5 separate regions of the Homo sapiens genome follow, and regions 1, 3, 4 and 5 are each reported to be linked to region 2. Evidence: microRNA targets listed by miRTarBase, many of them from high-throughput screens and not tested one by one. Region 2 holds a microRNA gene; each other region holds the end of a gene's coding sequence. Distances are between the middles of the regions.
The links. The annotated mature microRNA hsa-miR-324-3p reads CCCACUGCCCCAGGUGCUGCUGG and lies in region 2 at 2,615-2,637, opposite strand. An mRNA with a match to its seed (bases 2 to 7 or 8) in the 3' UTR can be bound and repressed. Matches are read on the target gene's strand: a 7mer-m8 pairs with bases 2 to 8, a 7mer-A1 pairs with bases 2 to 7 and ends in A, and an 8mer does both.

Region 1: the mRNA of HIC1 is a reported target of hsa-miR-324-3p. The part of its 3' UTR that is shown has no 7-base or 8-base seed match.
Region 3: miRTarBase lists KLHDC2 as a target of hsa-miR-324-3p. Seed matches in the 3' UTR shown: 7mer-m8 at 1,120-1,126.
Region 4: miRTarBase lists CIZ1 as a target of hsa-miR-324-3p. The part of its 3' UTR that is shown has no 7-base or 8-base seed match.
Region 5: the mRNA of SETDB1 is a reported target of hsa-miR-324-3p. The part of its 3' UTR that is shown has no 7-base or 8-base seed match.

Annotation. Positions count from the first base shown.
Region 1 is chr17:2,058,305-2,062,304 of GRCh38, forward strand. HIC1 (HIC ZBTB transcriptional repressor 1) reads left to right here. Exons shown (of 2, transcript NM_006497.4): 2 at 1-4,000. The coding sequence ends at 531. It overlaps SMG6 (SMG6 nonsense mediated mRNA decay factor), which reads right to left. Exons shown (of 19, transcript NM_017575.5): 19 at 1,539-3,318. The coding sequence ends at 3,188. Among named protein-coding and RNA genes, the nearest start is that of HIC1, 5.2 kb to the left of the region's middle. RefSeq lists an enhancer at 1-360 and silencers at 53-372, 393-482, 503-692, 1,023-1,092.
Region 2 is chr17:7,220,694-7,224,693 of GRCh38, forward strand. It overlaps MIR324 (microRNA 324), which reads right to left and starts at 2,686; the gene lies at 2,604-2,686. It overlaps ACADVL (acyl-CoA dehydrogenase very long chain), which reads left to right. Exons shown (of 20, transcript NM_000018.4): 5 at 73-137; 6 at 231-365; 7 at 845-989; 8 at 1,259-1,388; 9 at 1,484-1,609; 10 at 1,974-2,172; 11 at 2,440-2,544; 12 at 2,951-3,037; 13 at 3,120-3,182; 14 at 3,275-3,376; 15 at 3,453-3,550; 16 at 3,628-3,700; 17 at 3,787-3,859; 18 at 3,949-4,000. RefSeq lists an enhancer at 1-144.
Region 3 is chr14:49,782,734-49,786,733 of GRCh38, reverse strand. KLHDC2 (kelch domain containing 2) reads right to left here. Exons shown (of 13, transcript NM_014315.3): 13 at 349-3,904. The coding sequence ends at 3,781. NEMF (nuclear export mediator factor) reads left to right here. Exons shown (of 33, transcript NM_004713.6): 29 at 1-16; 30 at 1,414-1,514; 31 at 1,599-1,642; 32 at 1,730-1,809; 33 at 2,021-4,000. The coding sequence ends at 2,098. Among named protein-coding and RNA genes, the nearest start is that of KLHDC2, 17 kb to the right of the region's middle.
Region 4 is chr9:128,162,456-128,166,455 of GRCh38, reverse strand. CIZ1 (CDKN1A interacting zinc finger protein 1) reads left to right here. Exons shown (of 17, transcript NM_001131016.2): 17 at 50-391. The coding sequence ends at 259. It overlaps BBLN (bublin coiled coil protein), which reads right to left. Exons shown (of 2, transcript NM_024112.4): 2 at 2,532-3,013. The coding sequence ends at 2,841. Among named protein-coding and RNA genes, the nearest start is that of BBLN, 4.2 kb to the right of the region's middle.
Region 5 is chr1:150,963,742-150,967,741 of GRCh38, reverse strand. It overlaps SETDB1 (SET domain bifurcated histone lysine methyltransferase 1), which reads right to left. Exons shown (of 22, transcript NM_001366418.1): 21 at 3,659-3,747; 22 at 3,005-3,495. The coding sequence ends at 3,378. It overlaps CERS2 (ceramide synthase 2), which reads left to right. Exons shown (of 11, transcript NM_022075.5): 6 at 28-78; 7 at 258-350; 8 at 540-668; 9 at 880-986; 10 at 1,113-1,266; 11 at 1,454-2,556. The coding sequence ends at 1,594. Among named protein-coding and RNA genes, the nearest start is that of CERS2, 9.1 kb to the left of the region's middle. RefSeq lists cis regulatory regions at 2,253, 2,889 and enhancers at 2,180-2,324, 2,817-2,961.

The sequences.
Region 1 (4,000 bases), 5.2 Mb from region 2:
CTGGGCCTCAAGCCCTTCGCGTGCGACGCGTGCGGCATGCGGTTCACGCGCCAGTACCGCCTCACGGAGCACATGCGCATCCACTCGGGCGAGAAGCCCTACGAGTGCCAGGTGTGCGGCGGCAAGTTCGCACAGCAACGCAACCTCATCAGCCACATGAAGATGCACGCCGTGGGGGGCGCGGCCGGCGCGGCCGGGGCGCTGGCGGGCTTGGGGGGGCTCCCCGGCGTCCCCGGCCCCGACGGCAAGGGCAAGCTCGACTTCCCCGAGGGCGTCTTTGCTGTGGCTCGCCTCACGGCCGAGCAGCTGAGCCTGAAGCAGCAGGACAAGGCGGCCGCGGCCGAGCTGCTGGCGCAGACCACGCACTTCCTGCACGACCCCAAGGTGGCGCTGGAGAGCCTCTACCCGCTGGCCAAGTTCACGGCCGAGCTGGGCCTCAGCCCCGACAAGGCGGCCGAGGTGCTGAGCCAGGGCGCTCACCTGGCGGCCGGGCCCGACGGCCGGACCATCGACCGTTTCTCTCCCACCTAGAGCGCCCCTCGCCAGCCCGCTCTGTCGCTGCTGCGCGGCCCTGGCCCGCACCCCAGGGAGCGGCGGGGGCGGCGCGCAGGGCCCACTGTGCCCGGGACAACCGCAGCGTCGCCACAGTGGCGGCTCCACCTCTCGGCGGCCTCACCTGGCCTCACTGCTTCGTGCCTTAGCTCGGGGGTCGGGGGAGAACCCCGGGACGGGGGTGGGATGGGGTAAGGGAAATTTATATTTTTGATATCAGCTTTGACCAAAGGAGACCCCAGGCCCCTCCCGCCTCTTCCTGTGGTTCGTCGGCCCCCTCCCCCGGCTCCGCGCTGCTCTTAGAGGGGGAGGGGTGTCACTGTCGGGGCACTCCTAGCCCTACCTCCGGCCCTTGCGACCACACCCATTCTCACTGTGAATCTCCCCGCTGGGGTCGGAGCGTCGGGCAGAGTTGGGGAGTGGGGAGGGGACTGAGCCGGCCGGAGGGCCCCCCGCACCCCCGCTCCCACCCACCCCGGGACTGATAATGTGAAGTTCCTCATTTTGCACAAGTGGCACTAGCCCCAGGGCCAACCCTTCCTTCCTCAGTCACCAAGGGCGGGGAGTTCTGGAGTCGGAAGGCGAAGAGCCTACCACCAGGTCTCCCACTCCCGCGGTGCCCTCCCTTCCCTTCCCTGCGGCCCCGGACCATATTTATTGCATGCGCCCCGGCGGCCCCCCATCCCGAGCCCAGGCTGGGCTGGGCTGGAACGCGGTCTCTTTAGCTCCCTCCTCTTCGTTTGTATATTTCCTACCTTGTACACAGGCTCTTCCAGAGCCGCTTCCATTTTCTATACTCGAACCAAACAGCAATAAAGCAGTAACCAAGGACCCCGACCCCGCTGCTCTCTTCTGCCCCTGCACAAGGACCTGGATGGGCTGCGCCCGCTGGGTGGAGGAGCCAGAAAGGGCCACCCTCACACAGGTGCAGAGGCTTGGACCTGCCTCCCTCCCCAGTCCCAGAAACAGATCAGCAAGAGGTCAGGTATGTTTCATAACTAAAAATTTATTAAGGAAACAAAACCAGTGCTGCAAACGGGACAGAAAGGAGAGCTGGGTCTCCCTCCCGACCACCCAGTCATCGGCCTTCCAGCTGGGGAGAGAATCTTAAAGGAGAGGCCGGGGACCCTGTACTCCAAAGAGCCCAGTCTTCTGAGACTCTAGGGGACTCCTACCCCCAAACTACTGGCCTTGGCTCCCCTACACGGTACCCCATCGCTTCTGGCATAGTCCTGGGCCTCAGGGAGGGCAGAGCTGCGCACCCATCCTCCAGGCAGGCTGTGCAGTCAGGCCATGGGCTCTGGGGTATCCCCCACTGGTCCCATTAAGATTTGCCCCTGGCTCCACCGAAAACCCCGTCTTCCCCTAAGTTGTCCTTGTCTCTGGCCCTGGGTTTCAGGAACTCATTCTTGGTAAGGAAGCCTCCCCACTGAGGTACCAGCTAAAGGGGCAAGGAAAGGGCCCCTGTGTCAGTGTCAGTTTTTCCGGGGAGTGAGGGCAAAGCTAGAAACCAGGTTAGGCGACGGTGCCCCAGCACTGGAATGCCTCAGGCTGGGCTGTCCACGCCTGGAAGTTTCTCCCAGCACAGGAGCCGAGGGTGGAAGGCCCTGGGTGGGAGACCTGTACTAGGTTCCTGCCATGGGTAGTAGAGAGGGAAAGTTCAGAGTGAGAACCCCTATGACGAGGAACCGCGGTGAAGAAATGAAGGGGATCAGGGAGGTGAAAAGGATCAACTAGAAGGGGAAGAAGGGTGAGGGGCTATTCTGGAGGGAGGGTAGGCGGGCAAGGAGGGGTGAAGGGGGAGCTGAGGGGAGTCAGGACATTTCCTGAAGAGGAAGCTAGACGGAAAGAAAGGCCAGTGAGGAGAGAGGGAGCAGGTGGAGGCCACCCGAGAGCACGGGCCTGAGACCAGATGCCCCTTTCCTCTAGACTCATGACTGTCCACGGGGACGCAACTGGCGAAGTGTGAGGGACCCAGGTTGATAAGGGCAGGAAGAGGAGCAGCAGGAAGGGTGTGTGGTAAGTCTGGGGTGGATGGTAGAAGAGGTGGGGGCCCAGGGCTGCTGTTAGGGACATGCTGTCTAGAAGCCGACTTGGGTTCATGGGCGAGTCCAGGCCTCAGGGAGACTGGGGACACACACCCTGGGCACTTCTTCCTGACTTAACCAAAGCCTCTTGAACACATTCACGACAGAGGTTCTGAAGATGAAAGGGAACTGTGATTTCACTGCATCTGACGGAAACTCAGAACCCCTGCCCTGTCTCCACTGGAGAAAGTGGCTGCGTCCCCAGGCGAGAAGGCCCTCCCTCAGCCTTGGAATGAGACGGGGGAGGGAGAAAGGCTGAGAGCATGGGCGGCCTATCTGGCTTGCCCAGCTGCTGTTGCTGTAGCCAGCCACCTCCCTGCTAAATCCTGGCAGCCCAGGAGGGTCCCAGCAGCTTCCGCCCGATCCTTGGGAGGGGCTCTGTGAGGAGCAGGTCCCCCACAGCATGGCCGTGGCGTGGGTTGGAAGAGGATGGTTTATTGTCTGGGTGGATTGGTGGCTCAGGCACGTGGGCATCTTCCGTGCTACACTGGGCGCCTGGTGGCCTTTCAGGAACGGTTCCACGGGGGGGGGGCCCCAGTGTGGCTCCCTCAGCCCACCTGGGCCCACGTGAGGAAGGCTGGGATGTCCCGTACAGGAACATTCCTTGTGAGCGCCTTCACACGCAGGTTCCGGTCATCCGTCAACAGCACCACCTCCCGCAGTAGCCGGATTGGCTCCTCTGTGGGCATGAGAGAGCAGAAGGCTGTCACTGAGGACAGGAGGCAGAGGGCTGGCTGCTCTTCTCACCCTGGAGAATGTGGTCCTGGGGAGGGGGTGCCACGCTAGCCGTGTCTTGGCTCTTCTACCAGTCCTTTCCTCCGTCCGGGCTCTCAGCCCCGGGGACCCTCCCCTGCTGGCCTAGAGAGGGCTGCACTGGGCTTCTGCCTTGACTCCGGCCTCCCATACAGGACTCTCTTCTGCCTAGTTCCCAAAAGCTGCCCAAACCCGTCAGCCTCCCAGGACCCTAAACTGAGGGAATAGAAGCAGCCCCTTGACCTCTACTCCTTTTTACCACATGGCTGGCCCCCAGATCACAACACCGCTCTCCCCACACCCCACTTTTTTTTTTTTAACAAGTCCTCTCCCTCTAAAAGCCAGCAGGTTGAAGCTTTACGCATCCAGAGGCAGAAAACTAAAGATGGAACAGAAAATGTATCCAGGGTTTTCCAGATGTGGGGAGAGGGGTTAAGGGAGCCCTGAGGAGAGGAGAGGGTAAGGGTCTTGGCAGAATTGTGCCAAGGGCACACCAAGGCTTTGGCCAACCGGTCGCCCCTGCTAAGTAACAGTAATCCATGTATACAGGCGAAAGTCTCTAAGAGGACAGAAGAGTAAAAAGGAAGAGTAGAGTTAAGATGATGATC
Region 2 (4,000 bases):
CAGAGCTGGGTGGGGCCAGGGTGGTTTCCCCTGCCAGCCTGGCCTGACCAGCCTGTCCCCCACCCTCTGCAGTGCTCAACGAAGAGCAGACACAGTTTCTTAAAGAGCTGGTGGAGCCTGTGTCCCGTTTCTTCGAGGTAAGGAATGACTCGGGGCTTGGTCCCTGGTGAGGTGTTTGGAGATGTTAAGCTCAAAAGGAGCCTGGATGTGGGATCCTGTGCCTTCCCCAGGAAGTGAACGATCCCGCCAAGAATGACGCTCTGGAGATGGTGGAGGAGACCACTTGGCAGGGCCTCAAGGAGCTGGGGGCCTTTGGTCTGCAAGTGCCCAGTGAGCTGGGTGGTGTGGGCCTTTGCAACACCCAGGTGAGGGCGCCCTATCGCCACATCCCAGTATGCCATACCCCAGCTTGGCAGACTCAGCTCTTTTGCCATAGACCTAGAGACTAGGGCTAAGGTCTCTTCTAAGCACCTGCCCTGGGTGCCTGTGGGATGGATGTTAACTGTCCAAACATAACACAATTTACATGCAGTCCCCTAGGCCTGAGCCATGGGCCTCACCCTGGTTCCCAAGTCCTTACAAATCTCTAAGTTGGGGATTGCCTAACAATAGACTGACTAGTAGCAAGTCACCCTCCTACCTAGACCTAAGACAGACCAGCATTCTCTGCTGTGCCCTTTGCACACCCCACTTCTTTTCTACACACTGGGGATGGCCCAGGTCAGGCACTGCCCTAGGTCAGGAACTGCCCTAGGTCAGGAACTGCCCTGTTGCCCACACTCTCCTGTTAAGGTCAGGTCCCCCTGCAGCCAGTGACAACCCCAGATTCCTGCTTCCCCTCCAGTACGCCCGTTTGGTGGAGATCGTGGGCATGCATGACCTTGGCGTGGGCATTACCCTGGGGGCCCATCAGAGCATCGGTTTCAAAGGCATCCTGCTCTTTGGCACAAAGGCCCAGAAAGAAAAATACCTCCCCAAGCTGGCATCTGGTGAGGCAACCCTAGGAGAGCCAGGGATTGGGGGGCACACTGGGCTTGGCACAGATTAGGCCAGTTGGCACTTAGATTATCAGATGGCTGAGCATTTCAGTTGGGGGAAGGTTTTGGGGAGGCATCACAGTGTGCTGGTTGGGACATGCAAAAGAACTGGATACTCCCAGGTGTTAAGGGGGAACTGCCTGCTGGAGGGATGGGGAAGTGGGCCGAGGGGACTTTGAAGCTCATCAGAACTTGGGGTAAAGTAGCTCTCTCCCCAACAGGGGAGACTGTGGCCGCTTTCTGTCTAACCGAGCCCTCAAGCGGGTCAGATGCAGCCTCCATCCGAACCTCTGCTGTGCCCAGCCCCTGTGGAAAATACTATACCCTCAATGGAAGCAAGCTTTGGATCAGGCAACCTGCCTCCCATTTCTCCCCTTCTCCTCCGCCCAATTCCAGGCCCCACTGCTCCCCGTCCTCCACGCCCTGAATATCCCATTCTTCCACAGTAATGGGGGCCTAGCAGACATCTTCACGGTCTTTGCCAAGACACCAGTTACAGATCCAGCCACAGGAGCCGTGAAGGAGAAGATCACAGCTTTTGTGGTGGAGAGGGGCTTCGGGGGCATTACCCAGTGAGTGAATTTGGGTTGGGGGAGCTTAGGACTGAGGGGCAGGACTGGGCTCCTGGGCAGATGGCTGTTGCAAGTCACCCTGGGGACGTGTGCAAAAGCCAAAGCAGGTGGACTGAATGTGGCCTTTGGGACTAATATGTATGCAACTGAGCTAAAGTTTTGGCTCCAGCAACCAAGTCCAACACAAAATAGGACATAGCCAGGCCTCCTTAGCCCTCAGGGCCTGAGGGGAAGTGGTGGCTGTAGCCTCTAATAGTCTAGTGGTCGTCATTCCTCCCTGGTGCATAAGGAGCGAAGGAGCAGTTTTTCCCCCAGTGACAACCTGTTGAACACACCTCTGCTTTCCCACACTGCCCTGACACAGTGGGCCCCCTGAGAAGAAGATGGGCATCAAGGCTTCAAACACAGCAGAGGTGTTCTTTGATGGAGTACGGGTGCCATCGGAGAACGTGCTGGGTGAGGTTGGGAGTGGCTTCAAGGTTGCCATGCACATCCTCAACAATGGAAGGTTTGGCATGGCTGCGGCCCTGGCAGGTACCATGAGAGGCATCATTGCTAAGGCGGTGAGTACCCTGCCCGAGTCCCTAGGTAACCCAAACAGAAGTCTCACTGTCCCCCTTGCCATGTGTCCCTGATCACTTGCAGGCACTCCCTACACTAGAAACTCCTCCCCTACCAGCAGCCCGACTTGCTAGCTTAGGTCTCCATCCAGCGTAGACTGAACTCTGGTTGTATGCAAAACCCATCCCTCTGGCGCAAGCCCAGCCCCTCTCCTAGGGAGACTGCAGAACCACACTGAACCACAGCGGGATGTGTGGACCCTCTTCCAGGTAGATCATGCCACTAATCGTACCCAGTTTGGGGAGAAAATTCACAACTTTGGGCTGATCCAGGAGAAGCTGGCACGGATGGTTATGCTGCAGTATGTAACTGAGGTGAGGGCCTCCCAAGCCCCTCTCCCTGGAGCCCTGGGGCTTTCTTCCCAGTCGGGTCAGACTACAACCCCCAGCAGCACCTGGGGCAGTGGGTCTCCAGCTTTACACCAATGCCCTAGGGGATGCGGGGAGGCATAGTCAGCTCAGCTTCTGCGAAGAGAGACAGCAATGATGTTCTGCTCAGGTGCCTGCCAGCAGTACCAGAAGTTAATTCTACCTCATCCCTTACATCCACCCCTTTTAAGAAAACAAATACCTGGAAGCACCTGATGAACTGACCCAGAACAAGTATCTGCCTGACCTGACAAGCTAGGTCAGCCCTTATCTTGGAGATCTGGGTGATGAGGCCAAGTCTGACAAAGCCCTTTGCAATTTTCCTTCCCATGTCCCAACTATGCAACCTCAGTCCATGGCTTACATGGTGAGTGCTAACATGGACCAGGGAGCCACGGACTTCCAGATAGAGGCCGCCATCAGCAAAATCTTTGGCTCGGTGAGGTCCCAGGCATGCTGGGAGGGAGTCCAGTTTGGGTGCTCAGCTCCCAAAACCAGTCTCATCTGTTCTTTGTCCCTAGGAGGCAGCCTGGAAGGTGACAGATGAATGCATCCAAATCATGGGGGGTATGGGCTTCATGAAGGTACAGGACGGTCTTCTGCAGAGCCTCGGCTGGGCCAGGGGTGGGTAGGCACATCTCAGCACGGGCATATAATTTGTGTGGCCCTGTGCTAGGAACCTGGAGTAGAGCGTGTGCTCCGAGATCTTCGCATCTTCCGGATCTTTGAGGGGACAAATGACATTCTTCGGCTGTTTGTGGCTCTGCAGGGCTGTATGGTAAGACAGAGAATTGGGTGGGGGTAGAGGTGGGGAGGACAGTGAGTCCTGACTGCTGGACCCTCTTCCCCCATAGGACAAAGGAAAGGAGCTCTCTGGGCTTGGCAGTGCTCTAAAGAATCCCTTTGGGAATGCTGGCCTCCTGCTAGGAGAGGCAGGCAAACAGCTGAGGCGGTAGGCTTAGGGCCAGAGCCAGGGGAGGGCAGGGTGGTGTATGGCAACTAACCAGTCATTCTCCCTCTTCCTCTCAGGCGGGCAGGGCTGGGCAGCGGCCTGAGTCTCAGCGGACTTGTCCACCCGGAGTTGAGTCGGAGTGGCGAGCTGGTAAGTGGCCAGGGGTCCAGGAGAGCCTGCATCAGGGACTGCAGCCGATGGCCCCTCTGAGCCCCGCACTGTCCCCATCTCTTAAGGCAGTACGGGCTCTGGAGCAGTTTGCCACTGTGGTGGAGGCCAAGCTGATAAAACACAAGAAGGGGATTGTCAGTAAGTGAGCTCTACACCATTCCGCCCCTCCCTTTCCTCTCCTTGAGACTAATGCCCCCACCCCCACCCCCACCCCACCTACCGGACAGATGAACAGTTTCTGCTGCAGCGGCTGGCAGACGGGGCCATCGACCTCTATGC
Region 3 (4,000 bases), not on the chromosome of region 2:
TCAACAGGGAAATGAGGTATGATTTTATGTTGGGGTTCCTACTACAACACTGTGATTACAATTCAGTTCCCAGAATGTTTGAAACACAACTTATTAAAACTTAGAAACCTAAGACAAGACTGCAGGCTACGAAGTCAAACTTTCGGGGTCTTAATCCCAACTCTGCTATATGTAACTGTACAAACTTGGAAACATTCTTTGTGCCTCAGTTTCCTCATCTGAAGAATGGGGATAATGTCCCTACCCAGGAGAGGGTTGTTTTGATAACTAATGTATGTAAAGGGCATTTAGAAAAGTTTATGGCACATAGCAAACACTCAAATATTAATTATACTTCAGCACCAAGCATTCTGTCCTAAATCTAAGTTTATTCATATTGTAAAATAAATGGGGGCAATCTCACAGGCAGCACAGCAAATAAGAACTCTGGGATTTCTCCTTAATAATGGGTAAGAGAGAAGGCTGTTCTAGCCCAGGGTTTCTCAACTTTGGCACTATTAACATTAGGGGTTGGTTAATTCTTTGTTGTGGGGTCTGTCCCATTCATTATAAAATGTTTAGCGACATCCTCGGCCTTTACCCACTAGATCCCAGTAGCAGCCCCTACCTATTCCTTCTCACCCCTCATCGTGTCAACGAAAACTATCTCTAGACATTGCCCATTGTCTTCTGAGGGCAGAATCTCCCCAGGACGAGAAATAGTGGTATAGCCAAGGTATTAGTCCCATTTCCATGTGATAGGACTTAAATCTATTTGTGGTTATTATTGCATCATTTTAATCCACAGCAGGTTTCTGCAACTCAGGTAATATCCAATAGTTTTTTTCCTTTTTTTTTTTTTTTTGAGACAGGGTCTCTGTCACCCAGGCTGGTGTCACCCAGTGCAGTGACAGGATCATGGCTCTCCACAACGTCTACCTCCTGGGCTCAGGTGATCCTCCCCCCCTCAGTCTTCCGAGTAGCTGGGACTACAGGCACCCACTATACCCAGCTAACTTTTATATTTTTTGTAGAGATGGTGTTTCTCCATGTTGCTTAGGCTGGTCTTGAACTCCTGGGCTCAAGCGATCCACCCGCCTCAGCCTGAGCCTTCCAGAGTCCTAGGATTATAGGCGTGAACCACTGCTCCTGGGCCTTCTTTCTCTTAAATGTAACTGTAGGTAGGATTTTGAAAATTATTGTTCTCATTACTTATTATGCTAGGCAAAAATTAAGTAGTAAAGAATATATTTAAACATTGGTCTTCAACTCTTTGGAACTATGAAGCAGAGTTTAAGTACCACTGTTCCAGCTTAGATGGTATGTATATCAGGAAAAGATAAAAAATATGTTGAGATACTAATTCAAGTGTTTTAGCATTTTTTGTAAAGGGCGGTATAAATTGCCTTTGTAACTGTTATTTTCCCTTTTTAGGAAAACCTATTTGATTCTTTGACAGGCCAGCCACATCCTGAAGATGTACTACTGTTTGCCATTCCAATATGTGCCCCTTACACCACCATGACAAACTACAAGTAAGTTACCATTAGTTGACAGAATGGCTTTTGTGAATTGTTTTGTAACGTCTATTTAGTAACACATGTAATTCCTTTTTAAAGATATAAAGTGAAACTTACTCCTGGAGTGCAGAAAAAGGGAAAAGGTATTTAAATTTGTTTTTTTGAATTATGATTTTAAACAGTTCAGTGACTTAACAGTAGATTATTCTTACTCTTTTTTGTATTTACAGCTGCAAAAACAGCCTTGAATAGTTTCATGCATTCCAAAGAAGCAACAGCAAGAGAAAAAGACTTATTCCGCAGCGTAAAGGTAAAGTTCTCCTTCAGAAAAGGAATGTGGAGACTGACAGTACAATTTAAAATGTTAGCAGTTTTTTGTTATTTTAGTAGAAAATGCTGTCTTATTAGAAGCAGTAAAACCATCTCAGCTAAAAGTTTGGAAATGTTTTTCGTTTTTGTCATAAAAGAAACATGATTGACCATACAGGATGTGAAGATATTCAGCAATTTTCTTTTTTTAGGACACAGATTTATCAAGAAACATTCCTGGCAAAGTGAAAGTGTCTGCACCCAATCTTCTGAACGTAAAAAGGAAATAGCTGAAATGAAATTCTAAAATATTTGAGAAGAGCCAATTTTATAGCCTTTTGGAAGTTCAAAGATGAAAGCACCATGTATCAGGATTTCCGCATTATAAAAATGAACTAAACATTGCCTTGCTATATTCACCAAAAGGACTTACTTCTTGTTTTTTCCCAGTTTTATATAGAGGAAACACTGTCTATGATAGGATTTCCAAAAGTATTTGTGGACAGTTAAATGCTAATTAATATACATCTGTAGTTATTCTACATTTTCTTGAAATTTGGGAGGTTAATACCAAGTATTCATTTCATGATGTAAAGAAACTGAACAGTGAAGTGGCTTGATTGCTTAAACTATTGACTTGGTAAGTCTACTGTATATAACATCTAATATATATATTACAGGCCAAATGAACTAAACATTGCCTTGCTATATTCACCAAAAGGACTTAATTCTTGTTTTTTTCCCAGTTTTATATAGAGGAAACACTATGATAGGATTTCCTAAAGTATTTGTGGACAGTTAAATGCTAATTATATACATCTGTAGTTATTCTACATTTTCTTGAAATTTGGGAGGTTAATACCAAGTATTCATTTCATGATGTAAAGAAACTGAACAGTGAAGTGGCTTGATTGCTTAAACTATTGACTTGGTAAGTCTACTGTATATAACATCTAATATATATATATTATAGGCCAGCTACAAGGGGTTTAAATATTTAGGATTGTGTCTTGAAAACTAAGTATTGGAGTGGATTTTCTTCTGCTTTCATTGATACTTGTCAGAAAAAAATATTAGACCAAAATGTAAAATATAAGTAATAATTCTCATGACTCAGCTTAATCATTTCTATTCATTTGTAGACCTTCAGGTTTGATCTTAATTTTTTCCTTGTAATCTGATTCAGTTCTGTACCATTTTAATTTCCACCTTTAGTAATTAATTACCAATATAGCACGTTAGAGTATCTTAACCTATAATACCAGAAGCGCATTTTAGGCTTACCACTAAAGACTCTAACCCACTTTTCCTCTGTCTCTTAACAGAATGGAAAATGATGTCATCATTATTTCCATTCCTTCATGAGCTATAAAACCTATTAATTAAAAAAAAACTTTTTAATTGACTGGACAGCACCTGCCTGTATTCAGCATGACCACTTGCTCCAGCCCCTACACTGAAGCATTAAGGTCAAAGTACTGAACAGTTGTTGGTCCCTCCACACTTTGTTTTTCCAGCTTCGTCATAATGTGAATATTAATGTTTAAAAAAAAAAACCTTTATTATATTGTATTTACAACACTAGGTTACATAACTATAGACTACTCTTGCCATTAAAAAAAAAAAAATCTATAATGTTTTCAAAAAATGACTTCAGCATTTTGATGATGGTAAGACTATAATGTTTCTACAGATACATATCCTGAAGTTACTGAAAAGAAAATGTAGCAACCATTCTTCAGGGTAAAAAGCCCAACCATTACTTTACTTTAATAGAGGACAGCTACTGGTGTTAAATACATTTATTGTAAACTTTAGACACAAAAATAGGTTCTCTAGGCCATTCACATGCACATTAAAACCAACAGGTGCAAACTACAACAATGCATATAATTATACAAATGATGCCACTCTGTGATGTTTACAGGATTGCTGTCCATGCAAGGTGATCATAGGCATTATTTATGAAGCCTTAAGATCCAGAAGTGTTGTTACTACCAAACCTCTGATTAACACTGTGAAGTAAGTGTTTTGGAAGGCAGTTCCATGAGTTGGCTAACATTTCTTTAAAGCAAATGACTGCTTCTAAGCTTAGCCTGAAAGTGGACAAGGAAAGAGAAAAGTAATTTCACTTTACTGTTTGGAAGTACATTCACTTGAAAAACTACATAAAACATCCCTCTTTCTTTCTT
Region 4 (4,000 bases), not on the chromosome of region 2:
TACCATGTAGGGAGGAGACCCTGACCTTACCTGCACCTTCTGTATCCAGAAATACAAGGCGGCCAAGAACCCCAGCCCCACCACCCGACCTGTGAGCCGCCGGTGCGCAATCAACGCCCGGAACGCTTTGACAGCCCTGTTCACCTCCAGCGGCCGCCCACCCTCCCAGCCCAACACCCAGGACAAAACACCCAGCAAGGTGACGGCTCGACCCTCCCAGCCCCCACTACCTCGGCGCTCAACCCGCCTCAAAACCTGATAGAGGGACCTCCCTGTCCCTGGCCTGCCTGGGTCCAGATCTGCTAATGCTTTTTAGGAGTCTGCCTGGAAACTTTGACATGGTTCATGTTTTTACTCAAAATCCAATAAAACAAGGTAGTTTGGCTGTGCAGTTCCCACCAGTACTTCTGTCTGGGTGGATAGGGGAAGGGGGGCACCCCAGCCAACTCTCAGCCAGCACCCAGCCTCTCTGGGCCATGTGGTGGCAGAAACAGAAGGCCAGACAGGCTCCCTGGGAACCAGGGACTCTGGATCATGAGGCACTTCACCTGTCTGAACTTGGGTATCCCTCTTTTAAAAAAATTTTTAGGCGGGGCGTGGTGGCTCACACCTGTAATCCCAGCACTTTGGGAGGCTGAGACGGGTGGATCACCTGAGGTCAGGAGTTCAAAACCAGCCTGGCCAACATGGCAAAACCGTCTCCACTAAAAAATACAAAAATTAGCTGGGTGTTGTGGCGGGCGCCTGTAATCCCAGCTACTCGGGAGGCTGAGGCAGGGAGAATTGCTTGAACCCGGGAGGTGGAGGTTGCAGTGAGCCGAGATCGTGCCTGTGCACTCCAGCTTGGGCAAAAGAGTGAGACTCCATCTCAAAAAAAAAAATTTTAATTTTTGAGCCAGGCGGGGTGGCTCATGCCTATAATCCCAGTACTTTGGGAGGCTGAGGTGGGCGGGTCACCTGAGGTCAGGAGTTTGAGATCAGCTTGGCTAACATGGAGAAATCCCGTCTCTACTAAAAATACAATTAGCCAGGCATGGTGGCGCGCACCTGTAATCCCAGCTACTCGGGAGGCTGAGACAGTGAGGCAGGAGAATCGCTTCAACCTGGGAGGCAGAGGTTGCAGTGAGCCGAGATCGTGCCATTGCACTCCAGCCTAGGTGACTCCATCTCAAAAAAAAAATTTTAATTTTTATTTTTATTTATTTTTTGAGATGGAGTCTCGCTGTCTCTCAGGATGGAGTGCAATGACCCGATCTCAGCTCACTGAAACCTCCACCTCCCAGGTTCAAGTGATTCTCCTACCTCAGCCTCCTGAGGAGCTGGGATTACAGGTGCACACCACCACGCCCAACTTTTTGTATTTTTAGTATAGACAGGGTTTCGCCATGTTGGCGAGGCTGGTCTTGAACTCCTGACCTTAAATGATCTGCCTGCCTTGGCCTCCCAAAGTGCTGAGATTACAGGCGTGAGCCACCGCACATGGCTAATTTTTATTTTTTTGAGGCGGGGTCTGGCTGTGTTGCTCAAACTGGAGTACAGTGGTGCCAATCTTGGCTCACTGCAACCTCTGCCTCCCAGGCTTAAGCCATCCTCCCACCTCAACTTCCCGAGTAGCTGGGACCACAGGCGTGCGCCATCACGCCTGGGTAATTTTTTGTATGTTCTTGGTAGAGATGGTGTTTCGCCATGTTCCCCAGGCTGGTCTCAAATTCCTGGGCTCGAGCAATCCGCCCACTGTGGCATTCCAAACTGCTGGGATTATAGGTGTGAGCCACTGTGCGTGGCCAAGTTTCCCTCTTAATAACGTATCAGAGCTGGGGAAGTTCCTTTGGCTGGAGGCCTAGCAAGGTCAAGTGACTTGCTGAAGACCACGCAGTTGGTAAGTGGCTGGGATTTGACCCGGGCCTGAGCTCTCCGACCCATGCTGGCCTGTCTCTCCAGCTGCACCCTTTGGAGTGCAGGAGTGGGGTCCTTGCTGCTCAGGCCCTCTGGTTCTCTTCTTGGTTCACTAGCAGGCACCCCACCCTCCTGGTCAGGCGACCCTAAGATGAATCATGGGTGGATGGGGCCTGGGCTGAGTTGGCCCTTTACTTCTGCTATTTCCTCATTAGAAAGACCCATAGAGATAAACGACCAGACCAACCCTATTACTGGGGAGACAGGCCAAGAGTGGGAGGGCAATGCTGAGGCTGCATAGCATGTCTTAGCATGTTGGCTGTCTTGGTGAAAGGCCCTAGTACCCAGAGAGGCTGAGAGCATCACACAAGGTCACACAGCATGTCCAACAGTCTCAACTGGGCTTCTGGGCTAGGAAGCAGCTGCTGGCCAGGAATGTATCAGGTAGGGAGGAAGCCCTGCCCTCACCTGCACCTTCTGTGTCCAGAAGTACAGGTGACCAAGAACCCCAGCCCTACCACCTGGCCTCTGAGCCGCCAGTATAGGATCAACACCTGAACACCTAGACAGTCCTGTTCGCCTCCAGCAGCTGCTGGGGTTCTCGTCCTGGGATACAGAGGAGAGAGGCACAGCGGTGTGGGAGACCCATTTAATGTGGACACTCAAGGCCTGGGCAGAGTGGGGAGCGCCCAGGAGTTGGGTGGGCAGGCAAGTGGGTGGGTTGCAGGCCCACTCTTGGCCCCAGGAGGGCATGCCAGGTGGTGGGGGCTGGCCCAGGTAGGCCAAGGGGAGGCCCAGGCAGGAAGGGTGGCCCAGGCAGGCAGACCCACCAGGGGTCCCTGAAGGCCAGCCCTTGAGAAGGTGTCTAAGCCAGGGGGTGAGTGCCCAGGCCAGAGCCTAGCCCAGGGAGGCAGGGTTGGGTCCCGGTTGGGGGCTCTTGGAGCCTAGGGGCTGGCATCACTGGGGGCCTCCCCGAGCTGCTGCTGGAACTCCAGGCGTGTCTGCCGGTTGGACTCCAGCAGCTCCTGGAGGCGGGCGTGGAGGTGGTCATTCTTCTCCTCCAGGTGGTCCAGACAGGAGTTGATCTGGTCCAGCATGGAGTTGATGGCAGCGTATTCTGGGAGGAAGGCGAAAGACAGAGCCCAGATCCTGTGTCTCCTTGGGGCTAATGGACACCCTCCCTCCACTGTTTCCCAGCCTGCTTCCCAAAGGGCTTTGTGCAAGTCCCTACTGCTTCCTGAGCCTCAGTGTCACCGTCTGGAAAATGGGTGGAATACCAAAAGAGGAGTGGCTTTGAATGAATGACACTTTAGTACTGCATCCTTTTTTCTAGGGTTAGGGTGGTCATAGGGTGGCGAGCCAGTGTCCTACATGGGAAGTCCTGCCAGATGCCAAGTCTCTGCACTTCCTGCAGCAGCTGCTTAGTGGCCAGAGCCCACATTCCTGAGTTGGGCATTCAAGGCCTCTGTCCCCAGATGGGCCCTGTTCGCCAGCCCTTCTGTGGCTCCCTCAGGATAAAACACCCAGCGGAGTCTCCAGCCCCTGCCTCCTAGCTAGCCCTGCCTCCCTGCCTCTTCCTTTCCTCTCTCACACCTGCCTTTACCTACCTCAGGCCCTTTGAACATGCTGCTGTCTCTGCCTGGAAGGTGCTGGGTCCTCCCATCTTCCTTCCCTTCTCTCCTCCTGGATGAGTCCCACTCATCCTTCAAGTCTCAGTATGGATGTCACCACCGGGAGCCCACCCAATGCCCCAGACTGGATCAGGCCTCTATGCTGAGCCCCTAGCCCTCCTCAGCCCTCCACGACCTTCTCTCCAGGATTGACTGCTGTGCTTATCTGAGTGCTGTTATGTTTCCCCATGAAAGATGAACGGTCCTGTGTTCGCTGCTGGCTCCCTGGTGCCCTCACAGTTTTGCAATAAGCATTTGTTGAATGACTGAGTGAGTGAATGAATGAAGCCTCTGACTTTCCAGCCTCTCCGCCATTGCTCAACTATCCCTGCAACCTAGAATGCCTCAACCACAACAGCCCTTCAAGGACCAGCTCAAAATGCCTCCTCCAAGAAGCCTTCCCTGGTCTCCACTAGAAACCATCACTCCCTCCC
Region 5 (4,000 bases), not on the chromosome of region 2:
TTTTAACTTCTCACCATCTCTCTGCAGAAACCCTGGTTCTATGACATGAAGAAAGTTTGGGAGGGATATCCCATACAGGTATGAGTTCTGCTTCCTCATGTGGGGGTGGACTAAGACACACCCTAGTGAAGAGACGGTTTGTGGAATCCATGGCAGAGGGATTAGAGTGATGGAATGAAGAACCTCAGGGGCTAGGGGGTTTGTGGAGTGGGGACACCCTTGCGGCTGGTTGCTCTTACCTCTCTCTCCTCTCCCAGAGCACTATCCCTTCCCAGTATTGGTACTACATGATTGAACTTTCCTTCTACTGGTCCCTGCTCTTCAGCATTGCCTCTGATGTCAAGCGAAAGGTGGGTGAAGGGGTTGTGCAATTAAGCCTCAGAGCCAAAATGAGGCCCTGGGATGAACACCCTCTCCTTTGACTTCTGGGTACTCTGAATGGAGCTGTTGGTATATGGGGAACCAAAGGCAAGGGGTAAGAAGGCATAGTGAGAGCTGGGGAATAAAAAAAGGCCCTGGGGCCTGCATCATCTCTGCAGGATTTCAAGGAACAGATCATCCACCATGTGGCCACCATCATTCTCATCAGCTTTTCCTGGTTTGCCAATTACATCCGAGCTGGGACTCTAATCATGGCTCTGCATGACTCTTCCGATTACCTGCTGGAGGTCAGGCTTCCTCAAATCTAGAGACCCTGGTGCAGGTTCTTCTGTCCCTTTGGTTTTCTTTGGGAGGGAGGTGCGGGGTGGGAATTTGGAGGATGACATTCCTGGGACCAAGGAGGAGGGCACAGAGTCAGTGCTCCTAACTGGAGTGTACATATGAATGTACTCGAGGGAGTCAGGAGCCCATGATGATGGATGGGGGCTCTCTATGCAGTCAGCCAAGATGTTTAACTACGCGGGATGGAAGAACACCTGCAACAACATCTTCATCGTCTTCGCCATTGTTTTTATCATCACCCGACTGGTCATCCTGCCCTTCTGGTGAGTAGGCAGCTAGGCTACACTCCTGTTCTGAAGAAATCAGGAGCCTTGCCTTTCTTCCCCTCCTGTATCTCCCCGGTGTCTGACCTGCTCTTGTCCACGTTCTCTCTCTCCTTGAATCCTCAGGATCCTGCATTGCACCCTGGTGTACCCACTGGAGCTCTATCCTGCCTTCTTTGGCTATTACTTCTTCAATTCCATGATGGGAGTTCTACAGCTGCTGCATATCTTCTGGGCCTACCTCATTTTGCGCATGGCCCACAAGTTCATAACTGGAAAGGTGAAGCCCTGTTCCCATTGTGTAGGCCTTACTACTCTCTACAACTTCCTGAACTCCCATCTTGCCAGTAACTCTCTAAAAAACTAGTGTGGAGCCCTGGGTATAACAGGAACAAGCCCTCAGAGAGAAGCAGTACTTAGGGGTTTGAGGATCTCATGTAATAACCCTTCTTGTCCCTTTTCCACAGCTGGTAGAAGATGAACGCAGTGACCGGGAAGAAACAGAGAGCTCAGAGGGGGAGGAGGCTGCAGCTGGGGGAGGAGCAAAGAGCCGGCCCCTAGCCAATGGCCACCCCATCCTCAATAACAACCATCGTAAGAATGACTGAACCATTACTCCAGCTGCCTCCCAGATTAATGCATAAAGCCAAGGAACTACCCCGCTCCCTGCGCTATAGGGTCACTTTAAGCTCTGGGGAAAAAGGAGAAAGTGAGAGGAGAGTTCTCTGCATCCTCCCTCCTTGCTTGTCACCCAGTTGCCTTTAAACCAAATTCTAACCAGCCTATCCCCAGGTAGGGGGACGTTGGTTATATTCTGTTAGAGGGGGACGGTCGTATTTTCCTCCCTACCCGCCAAGTCATCCTTTCTACTGCTTTTGAGGCCCTCCCTCAGCTCTCTGTGGGTAGGGGTTACAATTCACATTCCTTATTCTGAGAATTTGGCCCCAGCTGTTTGCCTTTGACTCCCTGACCTCCAGAGCCAGGGTTGTGCCTTATTGTCCCATCTGTGGGCCTCATTCTGCCAAAGCTGGACCAAGGCTAACCTTTCTAAGCTCCCTAACTTGGGCCAGAAACCAAAGCTGAGCTTTTAACTTTCTCCCTCTATGACACAAATGAATTGAGGGTAGGAGGAGGGTGCACATAACCCTTACCCTACCTCTGCCAAAAAGTGGGGGCTGTACTGGGGACTGCTCGGATGATCTTTCTTAGTGCTACTTCTTTCAGCTGTCCCTGTAGCGACAGGTCTAAGATCTGACTGCCTCCTCCTTTCTCTGGCCTCTTCCCCCTTCCCTCTTCTCTTCAGCTAGGCTAGCTGGTTTGGAGTAGAATGGCAACTAATTCTAATTTTTATTTATTAAATATTTGGGGTTTTGGTTTTAAAGCCAGAATTACGGCTAGCACCTAGCATTTCAGCAGAGGGACCATTTTAGACCAAAATGTACTGTTAATGGGTTTTTTTTAAAAATTAAAAGATTAAATAAAAAATATTAAATAAAACATGGCAATAAGTGTCAGACTATTAGGAATTGAGAAGGGGGATCAACTAAATAAACGAAGAGAGTCTTTCTTATGCCTTCCTTGCAGTTATGTAATATTTTCTTTTTTAAATTTCACATGCATGTAATTTGAGCACTTTGAGGGGCCAAGGAGGGTGGATCACTAGAGGTCAGGAGTTTGAGACCAGCCTGGCCAACATGGCGAAACCCCATCTCTACTAAAAATACATCTAGCTGGGTGTGGTGGCGGGCGACTGTAATCTCAGCTACTTAGGAGGCTGAGGCAGGAGAATCACCTGAACCCGGGAGGCGGAGGCTGCAGTGAGTCGAGATTGCACCATTGCACTCCAGCCTGGGTGACAGAGCGAGAACTCCATCTAAAAAAATTCACATGCAAGAAGCAAAGGTAGACAAGGTAGAAGATGAATGACAGCAGCCCACAGGGGAGGATGGGGATAATACCTCACTGAAAGATCCAGAATTGGGAGTATCGGGCTGAGAGAGAGAAACAAAACCACAATCTTAGTTTTATCATATTGTTAAAAGACTTTCAAGAAATAATACAAACTGGAGATAGTAGATACACAGGCTCCATTCTAAGAACAAAGTCTGTTAGAAGCAGGAACACTTGGACAAATATGGGATGGGAGGGATGTCAGGCCGAGGTTAGAGTGGTGATCTCTCCCCACCCTTTAGGGCCTTTGGAGGTGGAGAAGGGATCCTGCCTGCTAGCACCACATTGGAAGGGATCATCTGGTCCAGAACCCCCATTTCTATCAACTAGGAGCTGGGGGGAGTAGCTAGCCCAGAGACTTCGGGTCAGGGTTCAACAATCAGGAAGACCCAGTTCCTGAGGAAACGACAGTTCAAGAAGGGTTGGGAAGAAGGCTGTCCTCTAAAGAAGACGTCCTCTGCATTCAATGGCCCCACAGCAACAGAGTAGCTCCTTGCCTTCCACACTGCCCACCTCGTAGTTGTAGTCCCAAGTAAGTTCTGTCCCAGCCCGGATTCTTCTGAAGAGGAAGAAAAGGATGGTGTGTGGCAAAGACAGCAGATAACCCAGGCACTTGGGGTTACTGAATATGTAGGTGGAGTTGGATCATGAATGGAGGAGGGGCCCTTAGAACTTCAGTGGTCCTTGCCCCTCCCCAGTCATCCCCTTTCCTGACTCCTTACTTGCTGGCAAAGAAGGCCACCCAGGGGAAGCGAAGATCATGGGTATCCACGAAGACATTCTGGACAAACAGGTTGGGGCTGCAACTGTGCTGTAGGTTTAAGGACAGGATCAAATAAGAACCAGGGAAACTGAACCTGGCTTTGCAGGGAGAGTGAGAGTTGGAAGAAAAATGATGCCATCTGACCCTCCCCATTATAATAGATGCTTTGAAAGAAAGCTACCTCTTTAAGATCCTTTGAGATCAAGAGTTTATAACAAGAAAAGGGCTTATAGAGTATGTTAAAAGAAATCTGAGGACCATGGGATAATCCAGCATCTAGAGGTGGGGAGAGGGGTCTCAC